2 linked regions of the Homo sapiens genome follow. The protein of the gene in region 1 interacts with the protein of each later gene in a pairwise test. Each region holds a gene or a part of one and is shown in the gene's direction. Other genes may lie near its edges. The genes, in order: VIPAS39 and VPS41.

Region 1 (12,114 bases):
TCAGATTTCTACAGATGAATAAAACCTTTTTTAAGCCTTAAGTTCCTATATTGCGTTATTGAGTTGGTTACACATTGTGTCTTTAACCAAGCCTGGATGGCTCTGATTGAAACTGTTGACCTTTTCCCTCTTGTGTTCTTTACCTTTAGGTAGAACTAGACCTGGAAGTTTCCAGTCCCTTTCTGATGGTAGGCATTGAACCCTCTTTTAATTGCTGTGGGAAATGTTACTGATCTGGTACAGTCTGGGGAGTTATGGGGACAGGTAGTAATTAGATGACAAGATGAACTTTCTTCTGCATCTACTGTCATTATTAGAGGAATTTTCTGATACTGACTAAGGAGGTAGAAATCATTCTAGCTACAGGGGCAAAGGTGACTTCTAGGGATGCTGTCTTTGGGGAAGAACGGAGATCTGCTTTTGGCCATAAAGTTAACATTGGGAGCCCACAAGTCAAAAAAATGTGAGAACGAAGAAGTAGAGGGAAGGAATGACAAGCAGGATTCATGGTGCCCTTCTGAACCAGCTGCTTATTCTTTTTCAGCTCTGTCAGACACACCTGCCAAAAGCTATGCTCCAGAGCTGGGGAGACCCAAAGGGGAGTATAGGGTGAGTTACAGCATACACTGGTGTGACACTTTCCACAGTATAAAGTACCTTGACATATGTTACCTGGCTTGATTTTCCCAACTATTTGAGTAGATATTTTTTTAACCCTGTTTTATAGATTAGAAAACTGGGTTTCTAAACATGAGGGCTTACCTGGGGTCTCAGAGCTGGGAAAGGGTGCAACTTAGACTTATAATCTCTATATTCTGACTCAGCTCTGCCATACTTTGCTTACTCATTATGCTCCCACTTGAAGGCTGTACTTTGAAACCCAGTGATCATCACTGCAGTCTGGAAGCCTGGTAGAGCTCATATTCCCATGAAACAAATAAAGCAAATTGATTCATAAGGAAGAAACCATATCCTAAGGTCGGAAAAGGAACATGTCTCCAACATCTCTCTCTTTCCTTCTGTTGGCCAAAGGCATTAATTGTTAGAATCCTAAAACGTGATTCTAATTCATCTAGAGGTTGCAGTCCTGAACTGGTAGGCATGGGGCTACTGGCTTTGTCAATTGGCTCCTCCCTCTTTGATCCATCTCCTCCTATCTATATTGCCCCTGCTCTAGTTCCTTCAGAAACTCAAAACAAAACCGTCCCATTTCTTCATTTTTTTCACATCCATTCCCTCCCACAAATTATTTCCCCCTTAGACACTAAGACTGAGTTTGAGTTGAGGAGCGGGTATGCTGATAAATTTGATTCCTTAACTTCCTGGGATTCACGTATTGCTAATATTCCAGGATTACAGCAATGACTGGAGCCCCAGTGATACAGTGCGACGTCTCCGGAAGGGCAAGGTAAGGACAGAGAATTTTTGTGAGGTTCTTTGGGAAGCTGGGCAGCTTGTTCACACAGGGAAGATTTCTTGACCTCTCTTCAGTTCTCATTTGTTCAATGAATTTCAGGGGGAAAATAAATCCACTAAGGTTGAAAGTCAGTGGCAAAATTTCTGATTCTCCATTACTGTTGCTTTGATGGGGTAGTGGGGAAAGAGTGATGGATGAGAGGGAAAAGTACATTTAAGAGTGAGAGGCCAGGGCCAGGGGTGGTGGCTCACGCCTGTAATCCCAGCACTTTGGGAGGCCGAGGAGGGTGGATCACGAGGTCAAGAGATCAAGACCATCCTGGCCAACATGGTGAAACCCCATCTGTACTAAAAATATAAAAAATTAGCCGGGTGTGGTGGCAGGCACCTGTAGTCCCAGCTACTCGGGAGGCTGAGGCAGGAGAATCACTTGAACCCAGGAGGTGGAGGTTGCAGTGAGCTGAGATTGCACCACTGCATTTCAGCCTGGTGAGTGAGACTCCGTCTCAAAAAAAAAAAAGAGAAGCCGGGCATGGTGGCTCACGCCTGTAATCCCAGCACTTTGGGAGGCCAAGGCAGGCAGATCACCTGAGGTCAGGAGTTCTAGACCAGCCTGGCCAACATGGTGAAACCCCATCTCTACTAAAAATACAAAAAATTAGGCGGGCGTGGTGGCGTGCACCTGTAATCCCAGCTACTCGGGAGGCTGAGGCAGGAGAATCACTTGAATCTGGGAAGTGGAGGTTGTAGTGAGCTGAGATCGTGCCACTGCACTCCAGCCTGGGCAACAAGAGTGAAACTCCGCCCCCCTGCCCAAAAAAAGAGAGTGAGAACAATCTTTTATGTTAGATCTGTGATTCATTGAGTTCATTTTTGCATATGGTGTGATGTAAGGGTTTGAGTTTAATTGTTTTCCCCATGTAGATCTCCATTTGTTCCAGCACTATTTGTTGAAAAAACTATCCTTTCCCCATTGAATTATCCTGCTGATGCTTTTGTTGAAAATCGGGCCAGTCACAGTGGCTCATGCCTGTAATCCCAGAACTTGGGGAGGCCAAGGTGGGAGGATCTGTCGAGCCCAGGAGTTCAAGACTAGGCTGGGCAACATAGTGAGACCGTGTCTCTACAAATGATAAAAAAAAAAAAATTAGCCAGGTGTGCGGCCGGGCACGGTGGTTCATGCCTGTAATCCCAGCACTTTGGAAGGCCAAGACAGGCAGATCACCTGAGGTTGGGAGTTTAAGACCAGCCTGACCAACATGGAGAAACCCCGTCTCTACTAAAAATACAAAATTAGCTGGGCGTGGTGGCACATGCCTGTAAATCACAGCTTCTCAGGAGGCTGAGGCAAGAGAATCGTTTGAACCTGGTGGCCGAGATTGTGCAATTGCACTCCAGCCTGGGCAACAAGAGCGGAACTCCATCTTAAAAAAAAAAAAGCCAGGTGTGGCTAATTTATAATATAAATGTATATTATAATTTATAATTATAAATATATAAATGTAACTTATAATCTTATAGCAGGATATGTTTTTAGTCACAGTTGCTTGAGAGGCTGAGATGGAAGGATTGCTTGAGCCCTGAAGGTCGAGGCTGCAATGAGCCGAGATTGTGCCACTCCATTCCAGCTTAGGCAACAGAGCAAGACCCTGTCTCAAGAAGAAAAAAATAAGAAGAAAATTAATGATCATATATGTGTAGGCCTATTTCTGGACTCTTTATTCTAGTTCATTGGATTATTTATCCTTAAGCTAATACTACAGTCTTGATTATTATATAAATGTTGAAATCAAGATACTTCAACTTTGTTGAAGCTTTCAACCTTCAATGTTGTTCTCTTCCAAAATTGTTTTGGCTGTTCTAGATCCTTTATACTTCCATATCGATTTTAGTAGCACCTTGGCAGTGTCTACAAAAGAGTTGTTGAGATTTTTATTGGGATTGCCTTGAATGTACAGATCAATTTTGGTAGAATTGGCAATGATCATAATAATTAATGGATCAAAATGGATCATAATGCCAGGTGTGGTGGCTTGTGCCTATAATCCTAGCTACTCAGGAGGCTGAGGCAGGAAGATCAGTTGAGCCCTGGAGGCTGAGGCTGCAGTGAGCTGTGATTGCATCACTGCACTCCAACCTGGGCGAGAGAGCGAGACCCTCTCTCTAAAAAAAAAGCAGATAAAATGGATTATACTTCACAGGTTCTAAGGATTGGGAATGAAAAAATGAATAAATAAAATGGATCATAGACCTAAATGTAAATTAATTGTTAAAGCTATAAAACTTCTAGAAGAAAATATAGACGAAAATCTTTATGATCTTGACTTAGGCAAAGATTTATTACCTAGGACACAAAAAGCATGAACCATAAATGAAAAAATTGATAAAATGGACTTCATCAAAATTTAAAACTTTTATTTTTTTTTTAGAAACCACTGTTAAAGCCATGAAAGGACCACCATAGCTCAGAGAAAGTAGTTTCAAAACACGTATATTATAAAGGACTTTCATCCAGAATATATATAAAACTTTTTTTTTTTTTTTTTGAGATGGAGTCTCCTTCTGTCGCCCGGGCTGGAGTGCAGTGGTGCGATCTCAGCTCACTGCAACCTACGCCTCCCAGGTTCAAGTGATTCTCCTGCTTCAGCCTCCTGAGTAGCTGGAATTAACAGGTGTGTGCCACCATGCCTGGCTAATTTTTGTATTTTTAGTAGAGAGGAGGTTTCACCATGTTGGCCAGACTGGTCTCAAACTCCTGACCTCAGGTGATCTGCCTGCCTTGGCCTCCCAAAGTGCTGGGATTATATGCGTGAGCCACTGTACTTGGCCAGAATATATATAAAACTTTTATTAAACCTGGCAATATAGCAAGACCCCATCTCTACAAAATAAAAATTAGCCAGGTGTGATGGCACTTACCTATGGTCCCAGCTACTCAGGAGGCTTGAGGTGGGAGGATTGCTTGAGCCCAGGAAGTCGAGGCTGCACTGAGCCATGATCATGCCACTGCACTCCAGCCTGGGCAATACAGTGAGACCCTGTCTCAGATAAAACAACAACAACAACAAAACTCTTAGCTTAGTGATAAGTACAGTCTGATAAAAAAATTGGCACAAGAGTTGACCAGACACATCACAAAAGAAGATACATGAATGACCAATAATCACTTTAAAAGATACTTAAAATTATAGTTATCAAGAAAATGTGAGTTGAAACTATGAGATACTGGCTGGGCATGGTGGCTCACGCCTGTAATCCCAGCACCTTGGGAGGCTGAGGCAGGTGGATCACGGGGTCAGGAGATCAAGACCATCCTGGCTAACATGGTGAAACCCTGTCTCTACTAAAAATACAAAAAAATTAGCCGGGTGTGGTGGCAGGTGCCCATAGTCCCAGCTACTCGGGAGGCTGAGGCAGGAGAATGGTGTGAACCCGGGAAGCGGGGCTTGCAGTGAGCCAAGATTGCGCCACTGCACTCCAACCTGGGCGACAGAGCGAGACTCCGTCTCAAAAAAAAAAAAATCACTGAACTATATACTTAAATAGGGTATGTTTTACTGTATGCAAATTATGAATAAGGGTTCTTAAAAAAGAACAAGTGATTGGCTGGGCGCGGTGGCTCATGCCTGTAATCCCAGCACTTTGGGAGGCTGAGGTGGGTGGATGACGAGGTCAGGAGATCGAGACCATCCTGGCTAACACAGTGAAACCCCGTCTCTACTAAAAATTAAATTACTAAAAAAAAATTAGCCGGGCATGGTGGCGGGCACCTCTAGTCCCAGCTACTTAGGACGCTGAGGCAGGAGAATGGTGTGAACCTGGGAGGCGGAGCTTGCAGTGAGCCGAGATTGAGCCACTGCACTCCAGCCTGGGTGACAGAGCAAGACTCCGTCTCAAAAAGAACAAGTGATTTCTGTTGACTTTATCAAGACTTCAGGACATTAGCATCTTATAGGGCAGCAGGCTGAACTAGAGAGGGTGGTGGGAGCCAACTGTTTTATAAGTGCTGGGGACCATAGGGTAAAAATAAAGAGACTCTCCTTGGGGACATTTTGTTTCATTATTGCTTATTCTTTAGTATCCAGCAACAAAGGAATAAAGAAAACTGTCTTCTTGTGTACTAATTCTAGTGTTATTCTGCCAGGTTTGCTCACTAGAGAGATTCCGCTCCTTACAGGACAAACTACAACTCCTAGAAGAGGCAGTAAGCATGCATGATGGAAACGTCATTACTGCAGTGAGTTGTCGGATTTGTTGTTGTTTGTTTAATTATTGTTTTCACTAGTTTCTGAAAATCCAATCAAATAGACTAACATTTTGTGTTAAATGTTAAGTAAAGATCCTGGATTCCCCTTGGAGGTGTAGGATTCTAAGTAATCTGTGCTTTAAGGGCTTAGCTGGTGCCACATGCACTAAGCGTGGAACCCTGTTTTTTTTTTTTTTTGGAGACAGGGTCTTGCTCTGTTGCCCAGGTTGAAGTGCAGTGGTGTGATGATGGCTCGCTGTAGCCTCGACCTCCTGAGCTTAAGTGATCCTCTCACCTCAGGTCCCCGAGTAGCTGGGACCACAGGTGCATACCACCATTCCTGGCTAGTTTTTTTTTTTTTTTTTTTGAGATGGAGTCTCACTCTGTCGCCCAGGCTAGTGTGCAGTAGGACAATCTTGGCTCACTGTGTGATACTCCTGCCTCAGCCTCCCAAGTAGTTGGGATTACAGGCGTGGGCCACCATGCCCAGCTAATTTTTGTATTTTTAGTAGATATGGGGTTTCACTACATTGGCTGGGCTGGTCTCAAACTCCTGACCTCAGGTGATCCACCAGCCTCGGCCTCCCAAAGAGCTGGGATTATAGGCGTGAGCTACCACGCTTGGCCTTGCCTGGCTAATTTTTAAATTTTTTTGTAGAGACAGGGTCTTGCTATGTTGCCCAAGCTGATCTCACACTCCTGGGCTCAAGTAATCTCCCTGCCTTAGCCTCCCAAAGTGTTGGAATTATGGGCATGAGTCACCATGCCCAGCCTATGTGAAACCGTTGATTGTAACCAAGACACACAAGGTTGGCTACTATGTGTTATATAAAACAATCTGAGGGAGAAGAGATGTGAGCGTATCCTCTTTCAGAGGGAGGTGTCTCTCAGCAGCATGGGCACGGGTGTGTGGACTCTCAAGACACAGCTCAGTTCCAGATAGCCATTGGCTTTCCTTGCATCACATACAGAGCTGTTGGCTATACCTTCAGAGATTGCTAATGAGTTGCTGGCCCCGTGTCTGTAGTGCTCAGGGCATGACTCTGTGTTGGAAAGTTTGCACAGTCTTTGTTCTTTTTTCCTGTAGGTTCTGATTTTCCTGAAGAGGACACTGAGCAAAGGTGAGAATGGCTTGCAGGAAATCTTCAGTCAGCAAGGTGTCTGCCACATTCGAGGGGAGAATGCCATGTGCCTTTCATACCAGAATTCATTAGTCAAGTCTATTTCAGAGACAAGTGGGGTGGCCTGAGACTTCAGAGCACAAATCACATCTCTGAGGGCGTCCTTTAGGGTGATGACTACATTAACCACAGAGCCCCCTCAGATGGCTGTGTTGGTTTGAAGAAGTCAGAGTCCATGCTAAGTGCCTGCTGTTTGGGTTGGTGTGAAATGAAAAGCTGATTTAATGGCTATGAGCTGAGTGTGTTGATGGTGAATTAAGACATAGGGGTAAACCATTCTTAGCTTTTGTTAGGGTTTGATGAGATAATATTTGGAATGTGTGAGTAGGGAGACCAATTTCACACTTGACTAATTGGCTTTAATCTTTCTCAACTTAACTCCTGACTGTCTGACAGAGATCCTCTTCCGAGAGCTGGAGGTGCGACAGGTTGCCCTGAGACATCTTATTCACTTCCTTAAGGAAATAGGGGATCAAAAGTTGCTTTTAGACCTCTTCAGGTAAGAACTGATCATCTGGTCTATAAAGTTTAGTAAGTACTTGTTTCAAAGCACTCTGAGGGATACAAAGGAATAGAAGACGCCAACTGCCCTTTTCCTGGAAGTGCTTGGAAGACAAGCTATTGAAGTGTGAGGGGATAACTAGCAGTACAGCATAGCTTATGATAAGGTGCAAGTTGGTTAAGAACCAGGCTTTGGAGTCACATGCACTTGGGTTGAATGCTATTATAGGTCTCCCACATCATTCATTGAGTGACCTTGGCCAAGTTATCAACCCTCTTCATGAGTTTTTCACATCGATCAAATGGAGATGATGACACCTACCCACAGGGTTATTATGAAGATGAAGGGCTAGTATGTGAGCCAGCACTTAGCATAATACCTAGTTTGTAGTATTAGTATTTATTAAGTGTTTTCTTACAAAAGACCTAGAATAAAGGTATCTTTTATTACTTGATTCTAAGTGATACCAGTGGGAAGTACAGTAGAAGAGAAGAAGAAAATATTTTCAGTCAGGATACCCAGGGAAAGCCTCATGGAAGTGATTAGGATTTGCATGGGCCTATGAAACTAGGTAGGATTCTGATAGGTGAGAGGTAGGCATGTCTGCTGGGGGTAAAGAGGGCTGAGGTCTTCTATCATGTTTTTCTTCCCTCTAATTCCAGTCAGTGGGGACTATTTCCCACCTTTGGATTAAAATATGTGCACATGATGTCTTTTCTTCAGTGTCAGAGAAAGGGTTAGAACCTCTGTTTAGACTGACATGTGGCCCAAGGTGACTGATATCCAGTGACTCCAGCACAGCAATGAGCTCCCCAAAAGACTGAGGTGGGGAAAAGCAGGTTACCTGGTTAGGGTCAAGATTACAGATGTTAGCCAGGAATTTGCAAAAGAAGACATGGTCACAGAGGCTGGCTGCTTCCTCCCTCCTTCCTTCCCTCCCTTACTCTTTCCCAACCAACAGGGCTTTATCAGGCATCACCTCCATGCCAAAATGGTAATGTTAATTATGGTGGTCTATTCAGAGTAAAGAAGAATCAGAAGACAAAAGTCCTGGTGCTCCAAGGTCTGGGGGAGACAAAACACATTGTACTCTGTCCATGAAAACAGTAAAGAACAATATAGAAAATCTGTTTTCAAGATTGTATTGACAGAGAATAGTGCTTTAATCTTAGGAAAAAAAAAAACAACAACCAAGTTTTCTGTGGGCTAGAGTAGGTGGCTCTGAGCCTCCCTGTCAGAACTGTTAACAAAGTTATTAGTTCCTTGCAGTACCTTCTTGTCCTTGCTTTTTGTTCAGCCAGAGAGACCAGGGGAACAATGATATCTGATCAACCATTTATCTTGTGTATAGAGGGAAATGAGTTTGAATTGTGTTTCTCCTAGAGGAGGCACTCGATTTTGTGAGGTTATACTGCCACACATCAATAGATACAAATGCCCTGCTCCCTTCTGCTTCTTCCCAGGTTCCTAGATAGAACAGAAGAGCTTGCGGTAAGTGTGGCCTTTGTTTCAGTTGGGTACCTGTTTAACAGAAATCTAGGCTGGGCACAGTGGCTCACGCCTGTAATCCCAGCACTTTGGGAGGCCGAGGTGGGTGGATCACCTGAGGTCAGGAGTTCAAGACCAGCCTGGCCAACATGGTGAAACCCTGTCTCTACTAAAAATACAAAATTAGCTGGGTGTGGTGGCACGCACCTGTAATCCCAGCTACTTGGGAGGCTGAGGCAGGAGAATTGCTTGAACCTGGGATGGGGAGGTTGCAGTGATCTGAGATCGTGCCATTGCACTCCAGCCTGGGCAACAGAGTGAGACTCTGTCTCACGAACCCAGAAATCTAAGCCAAACCCCCGCCTCCAAGATCCCAGACTGATTGAACTATTTCCTTTGATATTGATTATATACAGAAGAGAGAGGCACCTGGAAAACCTGAAAACTTAATCCAAATGATGTATTCTTTCTTTTTATATGCTCTTTTGGTTGGGCTTATGAATAAATTTTAAAAAATAAACATGTGAAAATTGGCCTGGTCAATTTGTAATTTGTTTTTCGGTTGTTTTCAGGTCCTGGTTGTTAGGAGTTTTGGGGTTTTGGCTTCTCACAAAGAAAATGTTGAAGGCTAAGAGGATAAGAAACCAGATATAGGTCAAGAAGGAAGATAGGTCAAGTTGATGATACACCCAATACACGTTTTGGCTGAGAATTCAATGGCCAGGTGTTAAGATTAAATTTTGGCAGATTTTCACAATCATGGAATGAACTCCTGGAATACAAGAATAAATCTGAAATTTTACCAAAAACTCAGTTGTATTATTAAAACTTCAGCAATTCATGTTAAAAAAAAAAAAAAAAAACTTGGCAGGAATAAGAATTTCCAGCCAAGCACGGTAGCTTATGCCTGTAATGCCAGCACTTGGGAGGCTGAGGTGGGAGGAACACTAGAGTCCAGGAGTTAGAGAACAGCCTGGGCAACATAGTGAGATCCCATCTCTAAAAAAAAATTTAAAAAATTAGCAAAGCATGGTGGCGCATGCCTGTAGTCCCAGCTACCTGGGAAGCTGAGGTAGGAGAATCGCTTAAGTCTGGGAGGTCATGTCTGGGTGAAAGAATGAGACCTTGTCTCAAAGAATTTCTCAGCACTGTCGATGGCAGGATTGCTTTTTTAGTTATTGTACAACACATTTGTGATATCCATACAGACATTCAGTTGGCACATTAAATATTGTTAACCTTTGAACAGCATAATTATATATATAATACTGAAAATGCTTTTCAGAAACATGGTTTTTTTTTTTCGAGACAGGCTGGAGTACAGTGGTGCGTGATCATATAGTTTACTGCAGACTCTCAATTCCTGGCTCAAGCCTTAGGCTCCCAAGTAGCTGGGACTACAGGTGCACACGACCACACCTGACTAATTTTTAAAAATCTTTTTGTAGAGACGGGGGTCTCACTTTGTTTGCCAGGCTGGTCTTGAACTCCTAGCCTCAAGCTATCCTCCCACCTTGGCCTCCCAAAGTTCTGGGATTACAGATGTGAACCACCTCACCTGGCTCAGTAACATGTTTTCTGAAAGGAACTTGTACTTAATATTCAAAGCATGAGAGAATCTGAAAAATCCATTTTCTTAATCAACTAAAAATGATTGGCAGCCTGTAGTAATCATTTGAAAAGCTGTTTGTTTATATTTTTAAATCTCTGTAAGTTCAAAACTATAAGGATTTTTCTTCTTACAGCATTCTTATAAAGTTTTTTGTTTTGATTTTCATTAGTGAGAATAAATGTGTTTTGGGTAACTCATTTTTATCTAAAACTTTATTTTCTTTATACTCATTATGTTCGAATTGAAGATGATTTATCATGCATGTTGTTGTATATAGATTTTGAGTTTTTCAACCTTGTAAACTTTGGAAGTGGCAAAGCTGATAGTACACTTTTAGTGTATGCCCACAGAATATGAAGGTTTCCCATGTAGAACTTTTCTTGAAAGACCTAAGGATGAAATGGAATTGAATAACAAAAAATTAACTATAGCTCTTAAAGGTTACTTTCTTTAATATTAGGAATGATTGTATACCAACTATTTTATATGAACTATTTTACGAAGATTGGATTATGATATGTAATTTCTGTTATTCTGTCTTATGTTATTTACATTTTTACATTTACATTTTTATATACATTTACATTTTTGTATACATCTGTTGGCTCAATCTGAGAATATTTATGAACAGTGAGTCAGAATGACATGCCCTATTTATATTACTGATGTTAATTGTTAGATATTTACATGATCATACTACCATTGATCATGTACATGGTCAAGGATGCCAAAAATAACACTGAAATAGGTATTTAGCTCTTGGACTTTTCAAAATCTAAAGCTGAAGCAAAATATTCATTTTTGGTTAAATACTGAGGCTAAAGTGAAACTTAAAGGTAAAGCTTGGTACTCTATCTACTCAGTGCTTCATTATAGGTCAGCACTGGCCAATAGAACTTTCTACAATGATAGAAATATTCCATATTTGGGCCGGGCGTGGTGGCTCACGCCTGTAATCCCAGCACACTGGGAGACCAAGTTGGGCAGGTCACCTGAGGTCTGGAGTTCGAGACCAGCCTGGCCATCATAGTGAAACCCTGCCTCTACTAAAAGTACAAAAATTAGCCAGGCATGGTGGTGGGCACCTGTAATCCCAGCTACTTGGGAGGCTGAGGCAGGAGAATCGCTTGAACCTGGGAGGCAGAGGTTGCAATGAGCTGAGATTGTGCCATTGCACTCCAGCCTGGGCAACAAGAGTGAGACTTCGTCTCAAAAAAAAAAAAAAAAAAATTTTCCATATTTGTGTTGTCCAATATAGTAGCTCCTAGTCACATGTAGCTGTTGAGTTCTTTAAAAGTGGTTAGTGTTAACTAAGGAGGTGAATTTTTACATTAATTAATTTAAATTTAAAGAAACAGTTGTAGCTAGTGGCTATTGTATCGTACAGTGCAGTTATAGATAAACCTACTAATGATACTTAGTCACTCTTTGCCTATCCCCCCACCCGCCTCCAATAACCATCTATACCCAGAAATGAAGAATTTGTTTTTTTAAAGCATGGGAAGTTCAGTTAATCAGCTATCTCCCTCATCTAAGGAGACAAAATACCTCAAAGCCTTTTTCTGCTTTTTGTAGCTATCTCATTATCGAGAGCATTTGAACATTCAGGACCCTGACAAACGAAAAGAATTTCTTAAAACCTGTGTTGGGTAAGTATGGGGGAAAAATG
Region 2 (12,114 bases), on another chromosome or scaffold:
TTTCACAGTAGGAAGCCATTGAAATCTGATGACGGTAGTAGGGCTTTATTATACCATTTTTTTAAAGCTAAAAGTGTATAAAAATGGAGAAAATAGGGCTGCGTGCGGTGGCTCATGCCTGTAATCCCAGCACTTCGGGAGGCTGAGGCGGGTGGATCACCTGAGGTCAGGAGTTCGAGACCAGACGGGCCAACATGGTGAAACCCCGTCACTACTAAAAATACAAAAAAATTAGTCAGGCATGGTGGTGGGCGCCTGTAATCCCAGCTACTCGGGAGGCTGAGGCAGGAGAATCACTTGAACCCAGGAGGCAGAGGTTGCAGTGAGCCGAGATTGTGCCATTGCACTCCAGCCTGGGTGACAAGAGGGAGACTCCATCTCAAAAACAAACAACAACAACAAAAAAACCCCCAAAAATGGAGAAAATAACTGTTCTATTGAACTTTTTAGAAAACTTGGCATACATTTTTTTCTTGGTATCATGTATCATAAATGCCAGTAATCTCCAGGATTAGCAACACAAAACTAAATGTCTCCACATTATCTTTCGTGAGTGTTGTTTCTTTGGTGATTGCTCCCCTCCCCATTTATTTTCAGAAGAACCAAAATAGTGACATCTGCACTGAGTTATTGTGGTATAAAACAGCTCAGAGGATCTGAAACTAAAACCACTTTTTAGGTATGAATGAAAATTTTTTTATAAGTCACTGGGAAATTCTTGCTTTTGCCTAATATGGTAAAGGTAGTTGTCAAAAGTAACTACATATATATTTTATAGTTTACAGAAAAAATGAATACCCTGCATTCTGCCTGGAAATCTTCTAACCAGCAGTTTTGCTTAGCTCCAAAACGATTTATAGTTGACCTTCATATTCACAGATGCCCAACAGTATTTGTCCATATCTTTCTTATGAATAACATTCTGCTTGAAGTCTGGTTGTTTGTGTATTTGTCTTATCTCTCCTAGAGATTGCTGAGTCCTCAAGAATAAGAACAAGAACTTACTCATGTCTGTATCTTCCACAGGGCTAGTGCTTTATAGGTACTAAGTGTTTAGTAAAGTGTTTAAATGAATTTATTAGGGGGAAAATAGCATTTCAAATTGTCAAATTGTATATTAGTAGGATTTGCGTGAAATTATTTTATCTTACTTGCACCTTTTTTAAGTTATTAATTCAGATGTAATGTGGATTACATCTATACTATAATGTAGGTTACATTCTATACTTTCTTTACTCTTGCCTGCTCCCCAGGTACCCTTTGATCTTCCTAATCAACCAACCTGGACCCTGGTCCATTAAAGTATTTCCACGATTAGACCATCTATTTCTTAATCAAGTAGGAGAGTTTCTACTTTGAATTCTCCTTCTGCATTTTAGAAATTAGGGGAATTCTGTCCTTATTGTAGATCACTTATGGATTATTAGATGTCATATTTGTCATGTATATCCCCATGTGATTATGTTACAATAAAAATCAAATCAATACAAATTTGAGTGCTTCGATTTTCTTGCCTGTAACTGGGAATTTTACTCTCTAAAACTTTTGTGAGTATGAAGTATGTTAAAACTTTTGTGAATATAAAGTATGTTAAAGTGGCTAGGTTGAAATGGTTGTATAAATAAGACAGAGGTTAATCATCGAAACCTGGACTTGGCTTACGTATGCACAATTCTCTTTTCTTACAGTTTGGCTAAGATAGATATTTTAAAGGCAGTGTTACTACTAACTAAAGGAAAAACAAAACCCAAACAAGAAGTTTTAAAAGTATAGAATCAGACAGATTTTAGAGGGTGCACTCTTTCCCATCATGTAACTAAAATGTAGTCACAGATTAGTTTTGCTGGACTAGCGGATTGCTTTGTTAGTTTTTCCACTTATCTTCACCTGAATTGGTCGGCTAGAGGCCACTTCACTAGCTGATTATTAGTAGCCTCCGCCGCGCCCACATTAACACCTTGGAGAGAGGACACTCATCAGATCAGGGGCTTCTGTGTCTCATGCTACTTCCCATTCATGGCTGTGCAGTCCCCTGTTGCCTTTGTTTCTTCTTGATGCCTGGGCCTCCTTATGGTTTTTTTGTTTTTGTTTTTGTTAAAAATGGCTTGTGATTCCAGGCTCTTATTTTAAACCTACTGAATCAGAGTCTGTGCAGATGGAGTGTGTTAGTGGGTATTAGCTAATTCCCCAAACTGAGTTTTGATGATTCTCATGCAAAGGCAGATTTGGGACTGGGTCACCTGGTTACCAAGTTTGCCCTCTTTTCCACGCTGGGGCACACGTCAAGATTTTTCTTCATTTGCAGAATAAGATGAGTGCAGTAGCTGAGCCCAGTAGGCTGAATGGGCTTGGTAACCTGAGTCCTCATCTTTACTACTCAACCAGCCTAGTCCCTGAGTGTCTAAAGCTGGCCACAACTCCTTTGAGGTTTTTTAAATTGAAGCTCTGTGACAACAGGGATATCACATACATACCACACAAAATATTTCCTCCTTCCTGTGCCTATATCAGACAGTGCCTATATCAGAACTCTCTTTCTCATTATGCTCAGCTAGGGCGCATAGTTTGTTGGGAAGACAGAGAAGGTGGCAGTACCTCAGTGAGTGTTCACATGTACCTCCAGGCATAGATGGAGATAGATGATTTCTTGGAGCCTGGTCTCTGCTCTTTTTTTTCCTGCAACACAGACCCAGGTGAGCCCTCCTGCAAAGTTTGGAGTGGCCTTCCTTAGGCCCCAGGCTACCATTTCTCCCCCAAATTCTGTTTTTCTTCCCCAACAGTATGTGGGCACTTACAATTCTGAGGACTTCACAACCCAGGCAAGTCCTGGATCCTCTCTGTCCTGGGCTGACAGTCTTCCTTTTCACCACTCCTGACCTCTGAGGCCAGCTGGGCCAAGCCTTCTCCCAGGCCATTGTCATAGGGTTCTATGCTGATGGGAGGATTAGGGATGGGGGCTGGTTGAAAGCCTGTATGAGAGAAGTCTTCTAGGAGCCCAAGGAATTGTTGGAATTGCTGCATTTGTTGGAAGGTGCTACCTTCCTGCAGTTCCCTTTCTGTAACTGTCCTACAGTTCATAAGCTAATAATTCAGACATGAGTCTGGAGAAAATATGCTTGGTATTGCTCATAAGGGAAAGGCAACATATGGAGGAGGAAGAATTTGTTTTAGATTGGCAGCTTGTCTCATCATCATCACCAGCAACATGTTTTTCCAGTAGGATACTGGGAGACAAAGAAGGCAAAGCCTTTGGGTTTATCCACAGCATATTTAAAATGAGAACTTGTAGGACAAGGCAGTTAATATTAGGTGCTAGCTGAGGGGTACGGGAAGAAACGTAAAAACCAAGCTCTGATATTGAAGAGAGAGTGAATGTCCTCAGGCTGAGTGCCTGGCAACCTCTCCCTGGGGTATCCCTGAGAGACCCACTGAGCCTGTAGAGCATTCCATCAGGATGAGTGCAGGATGGGGCCAGGGGCCTTCTAAATGGAGGGAGTGACATGAGGAAAGTGCAGAGCAGGCAGCACAAACTCAGGCAGGCAGGGGGTGGTGCACATGAGCAGGCGTGCCTTGGTGTCAGAAATTGGGAGTGGTGGGGGTGGTGGAGTGCATTCTGTCCTGGGTGTAACCGCTCAGCTGCAACTGATGGTATGTGGAAGTGTGGATCTTATGTAGACATACAGTCAGGAGTACAGGTTTTTATATGGAAGCTTTTTTAAAAACACCACCTAGGCCAAACAAAACACCTGCAGGCCATATCCAGACCCCAGGCCACTGATTTGCCACTTGTGGCACAGAGATATAAGCAATATCTCGGCGAGGGGTCCTCCAGTGTGGCTGGAGGGTCACAGGTTTGTGGAGAGAGTGGGGAGTGAGGCTAAAGGTCTGTTGGGGGCCAGACTGGGAAGGACTTTGACTACTTTGCTGGGGAATCTGAAAGCTATTCTTCAGGCTGGAGCACTACTGAGGGTTGTTTGAGGAGGGCAGTGGCCGTCTGGTCTGTGCTTTGGGAAGATAATCCTGATGGCAGGTGATGAGTACATTAGAGAGGCCACATGTCAAGGCACAGAAATCACACAGTAAAGCTGTTTGGGTAGGTGGTTGGGCTTAAGGGATTGGTTTGCAAAAGAAAGGTAAAATGAAATGTTTCTGAGTTTAACTGTCAATCCGTTACCCAGAATTGGCTCAGATAGACATTTGTGTCACTGGGTATCTTCCAGCCTATCACTTTTGCTTTGATCAACAGCACTTTATTATAGTAAAATACACATAGCATAAAATTACCATTTTAACCATTAAAAAAGTTGAAAACATTTTTTTTTGTAGAGACAGGATCTTTCTGTGTTGCCCACACTGGTCTCAAATTCCCTGGCCTTAAGCAATCCTCTTGCCTTAGCCTCCCAAAGTGCTGGGATTACAGGTGTGAGCCACCCCCACCTTAACCATTTTTAAGTGTATGATTCAGTGGCATTAAATACACTCACATTGTTGTGCAACCATCACCACTGCTGTAGTTGTGATGTTTGTCCACCTAAAATCTCATGTTCCCCAGTATTAGAGGTGGGAGATCTAATGGGGGCAGATCTCTCACGATGGCTTGGTCCCATCCTTGAAATAGTGAGTTCTCTTTCTATTAGTTCCCAAGAGAGCTGGTTGTTAAAAAGAGCCTGGCACCTCCCCATTGCCCTCTTTTGCTTCCTGTCTTGCCATGTGATCTCTGCATATGCCAGCTACCCTTCAACCTACTGCCATGAGTAGAAGCAGCCTGAGGCCCTCATCAGAAGCAGATGCTGGTGCCGTGCTTCTGGTACAGACTGCAGAACCGTGAGCCAAATAACGCTCTTTTCTTTATAAATTAACCCGCCTTAGTTAGGTATTCCTTTAGAGCAACACAAATGTACTAAGACAACCACTCTGCCTCTCTAGAACTTTTAATCATCACAAACTGAAACTCTGTACCCATTTAACAGTAACTCCCCACTACATCCTCCCTCTGCCTTTGGTAACCTCTGTTTTACTTCTGTGTTATATAAGTGGAATCATGCAATATTTGTCCTTTTGTGTCTTGCTTATTTCACTTTGAAAACAGCATAATTTATAACTTACATTTCAGGATTTGAAGTTAGATTCTTTAAATGAGAGTGTGAAGCTAAAAAAAAAGTTTGAAAACCACTGACTCATTCTCAAATTGTTACCTTTCTCAAAGTTCAGCCTTCTTGGATTTCTTAATGAGGACATTTACTTTACGTCTTCTTTGCCTTTCTCTCTCTAGCATATTAATTAGAGGGCTTGATGAATGAATGAAGCTAAGAAATAACAGACCAGCCTAATTCTTGACATCACTCATGCATTGCTTTGGTAGGATTGTGGAAACAAGTTTTTTTTGAGATCGCCTGTCTGTGTGAGATGTTCGTAGTGGTGCTGAAGGCAAGTCTCAGAGTTTCCTAGAGTAAATGTTCTCCATCAATTCCATAGCCAAAGAAGCTACTCTCAGAGCCCAGTTTTCCCTGAAGATTCAGGTCTCAGATCTTCCTGCCTCACGGTGTCAAATTCTGGCACTGCATGCTTTCTGGTGTGGAGAAAGAGTGTAATTTGATTTTGAGTTTTTGGATTGAAATTGCTGGTTGGAGACTTCTGTTTTTTCTTTTTTAATTTACATACATTTAATGGGTACAGGTGCAATTTTGTTACATATATTGCATAGTGGTGAACTCTGGGATTTTAGTGTCACTGTCACCTGAATAATATATATTGTATCCATTAAATAATTTTCTCATCATCTACCCTTCCCAGTCTCCGTGGTCTGCCATTCTCTACTCTTTGTCCACGTGTACACATTATTTAGCTTCTACTTATAAGTAAGAACATGCATATTTGACTGTTTCTGAGTTGTTTCACTTAAGATAATTTTGTTTTGTTTTGTTTTGTTTTAATCGAGACAGTGTCTTACTCTGTTCCTCAGGCTGGAACGCAGTGACGCAATCACAGCTCACTGCAGCCTTGACCTGCTGGGCTCGAGTGATTCTTCCGGGTTCAAGTGGTCCTCCCAAGTAGCTGGGACTACAGGTGCATGCCACCACACCTAGCTAATTTTCTTTTCATTTTTTCTAGAGATGAGGTTTCACCATGTTGGCCAGTCTGGTCTTGAACTCCTTACCTCAGGTGATCCACCTGCCTCGGCCTCCCAAAATGCTGGGATTACGGGCGTGAGCCACTGTGCCCAGCCCAGATGTTTTTGTTTTAATGAAGAACATAAATGGGGTATTCACCCATTTACCTCATGTGCATACTTGAGTGGATTCTATATGAGGAAAAAAAAATTTCCTTAGGTTTAATGTGATTTTCCTGAAAGAGTACTCAAGTGTCTTTTTAGAACTGTACATACAGGAAATAGGAATCTTAAGTGTGGTTTATTGGCATAGTTATCAAAGCCTTGTATTGCTGATGCTAATAACATAATATTCAGCGACTCACAGAGATGGAAAGGATGTTAGAAGTCATTAAACTCAACCTCTAAGCCTCACTCTTCCAACCCCAGTGGTGTTAGGAAAGTTTATAATGTTGTGGGTGGTGAATGGAACATAATGAGCAGTTTATAATAGATGTTCAGTAAAGAAGTCAGAATAGTGATTGTTAATGTTAAAGTGGACTATGTCCACAAGAGAAGGATCAGTACAGTAAGAGGACTAAAACCAGGAACTGTGATGGTGAGTGCAGAGGAGAAACATTTTAGAAGGTGGAACATGATACATGTCATTAACTCTCTGGACAGCTATCATGTAGTGCAATAATTGTTTTTTTTATGTAGTGCTAAGAACAAAAATGTTACTGTGGATTATTGTAGCTTCAAATGAATAAGAACTTTATGAGACTTGGATTGACATTAAGCTAAACAGGCTGCATTGAGTTACAGAGGAGATTCTAATATTCATTGTGGTTAATGATACAAGTATAATAAAATTCTTAATTACAAGGAACATATCCCCATTTTACCCATGGCCTTTGAAGGCAAGGACTGTGTTGTCCTCCAGGCTGTACTTTGGAAGGTGCCTGCCACCTGTCAGGCTCTTGCTAATTTTTGATGAATGAAATTAAAATGATTTTAAACACTAGATTTACATTTATCCCGCTGTCCAACTTGTATTGAGTAATATATGCATCGATCTTCCTTAAAATGTTCATTTTTTTCTTGAAAATGTATTAGTTATATCTAAAATGTCCTTGCCCCATTTTTTTCTTGTTCTTTGTTTATCTCATGGATTGTTGTAAAGTGCTTACATTCAGTGTCAGCATATTAGTTGTAACCTTTTATTGCTATTGATATCTATAAGTACGTTAAGTAAATCTTCATTTTGCTGACCTCTTTGAGGATGCATGGCATCAGCAGATTCTCTCTTTCACTGGACAGGTGAGAGATTAGCAGGATCAAGTCAATTTTTCCCTTTTTGCTTTGTTTCCTTCAGAGCAGCAAGATTCATTGTCTAGCGAGAGGGAAACTGTGTTAAATGGCAGAATTTGTCTTAGTGGTGATGGTTTAAAGAGTGCATGTAAATTATACAGCTTGTTTACACAGGGTCTGATAGGTACCACTGTAGGAGATTCTTTTAAAAAGCTATTTTAGCAAGACAGTCATTTTAACTCAACCAGATTAATAGCATGATAATTAATAGCACAAGAACTTTTCAGTATAAAAATTGGCTTGTAGATAACATGAGATGGCAGTTTCCTCTTCCCTTCTGAGATTAGTGAGGCTGCTTTGCCAGATGGGTTTCCATTATTAACAAGGGAGAGAGTCTTCCAGGCCCTCAGATGATAAGTTCCTGGGGTAATTTGTTTACCTGTTAACTCTTTGAGGGAGAGCAGCAGGATCTGCCTGCCAGGGTGTGGAGAAGTTGCAGGAGACATGTGAAAGTCAGAGCATGTGGTCCTCTAAAGTATAGTTGTAGATTCTCTTCCAAAAAGGGCAGATGCGTGGTAGTAGGAACATGAGGACTCTTTCCCCTTGCAAATGATTATTCTTTTATCATCTCTTCTGACCATTTTCTTTTTCTATGCTTTATAGGAAACTGGGTCCCTTGAAGAATCTACAGATGAGTCTGAGGTAAGGTGGTGACTCAGGAGCCCTCGGATTTGTAGCTCACCACGTTGTTCTCTTGAGTTGCGCTTCTTTGCTAAATGCAACATTCCCAGGGGCTGAGGGTGTAAAGCAGGGCGATAGGTAACTAAGCCTTGGGGAAGAGCTTTTAATATGCCAGCTATCTTAAAAAAGATTAAATGGATTAGCTTAAAAAATAAGAAAAGGAACAAAAAGTTTTCATCTGAAACAATATTTTAACTTGAAACATGTTGGCAGTTGGAAAATTGATACAAAGTTTTAGAAATTTATCTCAACACTTTAACATCCCCCTCACCTGCTTTTTAAAAATAGCCACTGTAGGTTTTATGATGTTTATTCTTTATTTGTTCTTTTAATGAATGTGACATGTTTGTTGGTATAATTTTTGAATCATTGAAATTGGAGTTTGCTTCTTTTTTTTTTTTTTTTTTGAGACGGAGTCTCGCTCTGTTGCCCAGGCTGGAGTGTAGTGGCTCCATCTCGGCTCACTGCAGGCTCCGTCTCCCAGGTTCACACCATTCTCCTGCCTCAGCCTCCTGAGTAACTGGGACTACAGGCGCCCGCCGCCACGCCCAGCTAATTTTTTGTATTTTTAGTAGAGGCAGGGTTTCACCGTGTTAGCCAGGATGGTCTTGATCTCCTGACCTTGTGATCCACCCGCCTCTGCCTCCCAAAGTGCTGGGATTACAGGCGTGAGCCACCGCGCCCGGCCTGGAGTTTGCTTCTTAAAAAGGGAGCTACTTTAAAAGTTGTTAGGTTATTGTGATAAAGATAGTTTCTTAAGGAGAATAATATATAAGGAAGGAGTTTTTAAAAAATTTATTTTCAAGTCTGCATAAGAAATGTTTAAGCATAATATAAATTTTTTTTTTTTTTTTTTTGAGACAGAGTTTCACTCTTGTCACCTAGGCTAGAGTGCAATGGTGCAGTCTGGGCTCACTATAACCTCTATCTCCTGGGTTCAAGTGATTCTCCAGCCTCAGCCTCCCGAGTAGCTGGGATTACAGGCGCCCACCACCATGCCCAGATAATTTTTGTATTTTTAGTAGAGACAGGGTTTCACCATGTTGGCCAGGCTGCTCTCAAACTCTTGACCTCAGGTGATCCGCCTGCCTTGGCCTCCCAAAGTGCTGGGATTATAGGCATGAGTCACTGCACCTGGCCCAAGCATAATGTAATTGGCTTATCAATTTTATAGATGGACTCATAAGAAGAATTACATTTTTCCTTTTAATATTTCATTTCGCTCAGAGGAATGAAAATGTATCTGTGATAACCTGCTAGAAATACACACTGATATGACTCTAGCCATGATAATCTATTACATTTGGGTTGATACTGCATAAGCTTATGTGAATTTTGTTGCTTTTCCAGGGAAAAGTTGGACTTATGCATATTTCTCTAGAGAACAGATTATATATCAGGGATGTCCAATCTTTTGGCTCCCCGGGTCACATTGGAAGAAGAATTGTCTTGGGCCACACATAAAATACACTAACAATAGCTGATGAGCTAAAAAAAATTGCAGCAGAAAATCAAACAGTGTTTTAAGAAAGTTTATGAATTTGTGTTGAGCTGCATTCAAAGCCATCCTAGGCCATATGTGGCCTGCGGGCCATGGGTTGGACAAGCTTGTTATGTATTATGTCATTGTGTAGTCATGGTTTCTAACATTTTCATTAATAAGGATTTCCATTACTGTGGGGCTTCTGGTAAGGCATTTCTGAGTTTGCTTATAGATAGGGTATATTTGTTAATTTCTCATACAGTATTGAAAAGCATTTTAGGTTACCTTATTTTGGAAATCTCTAATTAACTAAGATTCCAGTGTTCTTAGAATCATTGGTACAGAATCAGACAGTGCTGGAACTCTGTTGAGGAATTTCATTTTGCAGGTGAGGAGGGTGTTGGCAGCCACCTAAATCTAAATCTTTCCACACATGCTCCAAATACTAAACAGCTCAACAAAGAGTAAATAAAAGCACACACAATCTAGGCCTCTAGTATAATTAGCAAATGGGGAGTAATACAAACTTCAGTGCAAGTGGGAAAATAAACATCCAAAGCCAGCAGAGTCGGCTCTGGAGTTGACGCTGGAGCTGACAGTCAGATGGAGACTGGGTAGAAATAAAGAGAGTACAGCTGAGACCCAGCCGAGGCAGAATGCACATAAAAATCATCTTAGTGAGAAGGGGGCCCCATTCTTAGTGGGGAGATCTGAGAACAGATGTGAGACTTGGTGGATTTCGAGAATTTAAAGAAAGGAGCTTGAAAGTGTATAGGGCTTTAGGTGACAAGAGTTGGATGGTGCTGCTTTTGGCAGAGATGGGGGAGGCATCCTTAGCGGCTTGGCAGTGAAAGAAAAGGACAAAGCAGAGGAAATTAAGGGTGCCCAGAAACAAAGAACATCATCAGATCAGGAGACTTACCTACTCACCAAAAAAAGATGCCTCCTAGAAAAGAAAATGCAGAAACCTGGTAAACCACACAGATGCTTCACCCCTTCTTCCCTGGTAACGTCTGTTACTGCTATCCAGGAAAATCCAAGACATTTAAAAATGAATTGAAATGACAAGTAACATCCATAAAAAGCTACTATAGGAAGAAAGAAAGTCAGAATCAGAGGTTTCAGTAGCAGAAAACAATAACATAACACTCCATCATGAGTTGAATGTCTATAAACAAGCATTTGCAGATACAATAAACTACCTTAACGTGGTTTGTTTTTTTTATTTTTTTATTTTTATTTTTTTTTAGACAAAGTCTTGCTTTGTCACCAAGACTGGAGTGCAGTGGCACGATCTCGGCTCACTGCAACCTCCACCTCCCAGGTTCAAGCGATTCTCATGCTTCAGGCTCCTGAGTAGCTGTGATTACAGGTGTGCACCAACACGCCCAGTTCACTTTTGTGTTTTTAGTAGAGATGGGGTTTTGCCATGTTGGCCAAGCAGGTGTCAAACTCCTGGCCTCAAGTGATCTGCCTGCCTCAGCCTCCCAAAGTGTTGGGATTATAGGCGTGAGCCACCGTGCCTGGCCACAGTAAAGTACCTTAAATCAGATATTTAAAAACTATATTAGAAATGGACAAAGAAACTAGGAAGTTAGGGAATGAGACTTGGCCAAACTGAGGAGATAAATGGAAGGAAAAGGTAGTTATTTTAAGATTGAGGAAAGTGAGACCCAAATGTGGCTTGATTGCCTAATGTCCTACAGCTGATGAGGAGGAGAAAGGGGTTCCAACTCTGGGCTCTTTCCATTTTCTTGCTGTCTAGCCTCCAGTGCCTACTGCTTGGGATAGTGCTAAAGAACTGGAGGTGGACCCTCATTTGTATCATGGCCATACCTTGTGCTTTTTGTATGACCTGGGCATAGCACTTACCTCCTGTATTCTTCAGTTTCCTCGTGTGAAAAATGGGTCTTGTTGCTTGCCTTGTATGGTTGCTGTGAAGATAGATACGATTAATGTTCATAAAGCATCTTATATAGAGCCTAGCACATGGGAAGCACTTGCTAAATATTAATGACCTTCAGTTTATATTTTAGATATTGTCATGGTGGCTCATTTTCCAGCTTGGTGCTTCAACCTGAGGGCTTAGAGAGATTCCTCCCCCACTTCCCCCCAACCCTAGCCTCCGTGCCCCCCGCTGCCTCTAGCTCTATGAAAACAGTTACTCTCCTAGATATTACTGATTCTACTGAGTTTATGGACCAGCAAAGTAGTCAGGATGTTGATGGACCAGGTTTAGGCCTTGTAAGTGTAGTAAGCCTGTTTGCAGTTGAGCCTTTGAAGACTTTGGAGTTTTTTTACTCAGTTTGAATCACTTTCCAGTTCCAGGAGCGATATTTTGAGACACCACTCAGTCCACCAGAGATTCCTCCTTCATCCATTTCTCTTCGTTCTCTATCATCTCTTCTCGTGTTTTGTAACTGTTAAACTTTTTTTGAAGGACAGGCATTTTCCTTATATATTTCTACCTTTTCCTTATTCAAGTGCTAGG

The links.
Region 2: the proteins of VIPAS39 (region 1) and VPS41 interact in binary tests that used the Homo sapiens proteins (3 or more experiments, as listed by UniProt).

What each region holds. Positions count from the first base shown.
Region 1 is NC_000014.9:77,437,788-77,449,901, reverse strand, and holds part of VIPAS39 (spermatogenesis-defective protein 39 homolog), read left to right. Parts: intron 1-149; coding exon 150-188; intron 189-544; coding exon 545-609; intron 610-1,351; coding exon 1,352-1,408; intron 1,409-5,560; coding exon 5,561-5,653; intron 5,654-6,749; coding exon 6,750-6,783; intron 6,784-7,239; coding exon 7,240-7,342; intron 7,343-8,808; coding exon 8,809-8,836; intron 8,837-12,020; coding exon 12,021-12,094; intron 12,095-12,114.
Region 2 is NC_000007.14:38,894,078-38,906,191, reverse strand, and holds part of VPS41 (vacuolar protein sorting-associated protein 41 homolog), read left to right. Parts: intron 1-8,062; coding exon 8,063-8,101; intron 8,102-12,114. UniProt on the Homo sapiens protein: Plays a role in vesicle-mediated protein trafficking to lysosomal compartments including the endocytic membrane transport and autophagic pathways. Acts as a component of the HOPS endosomal tethering complex.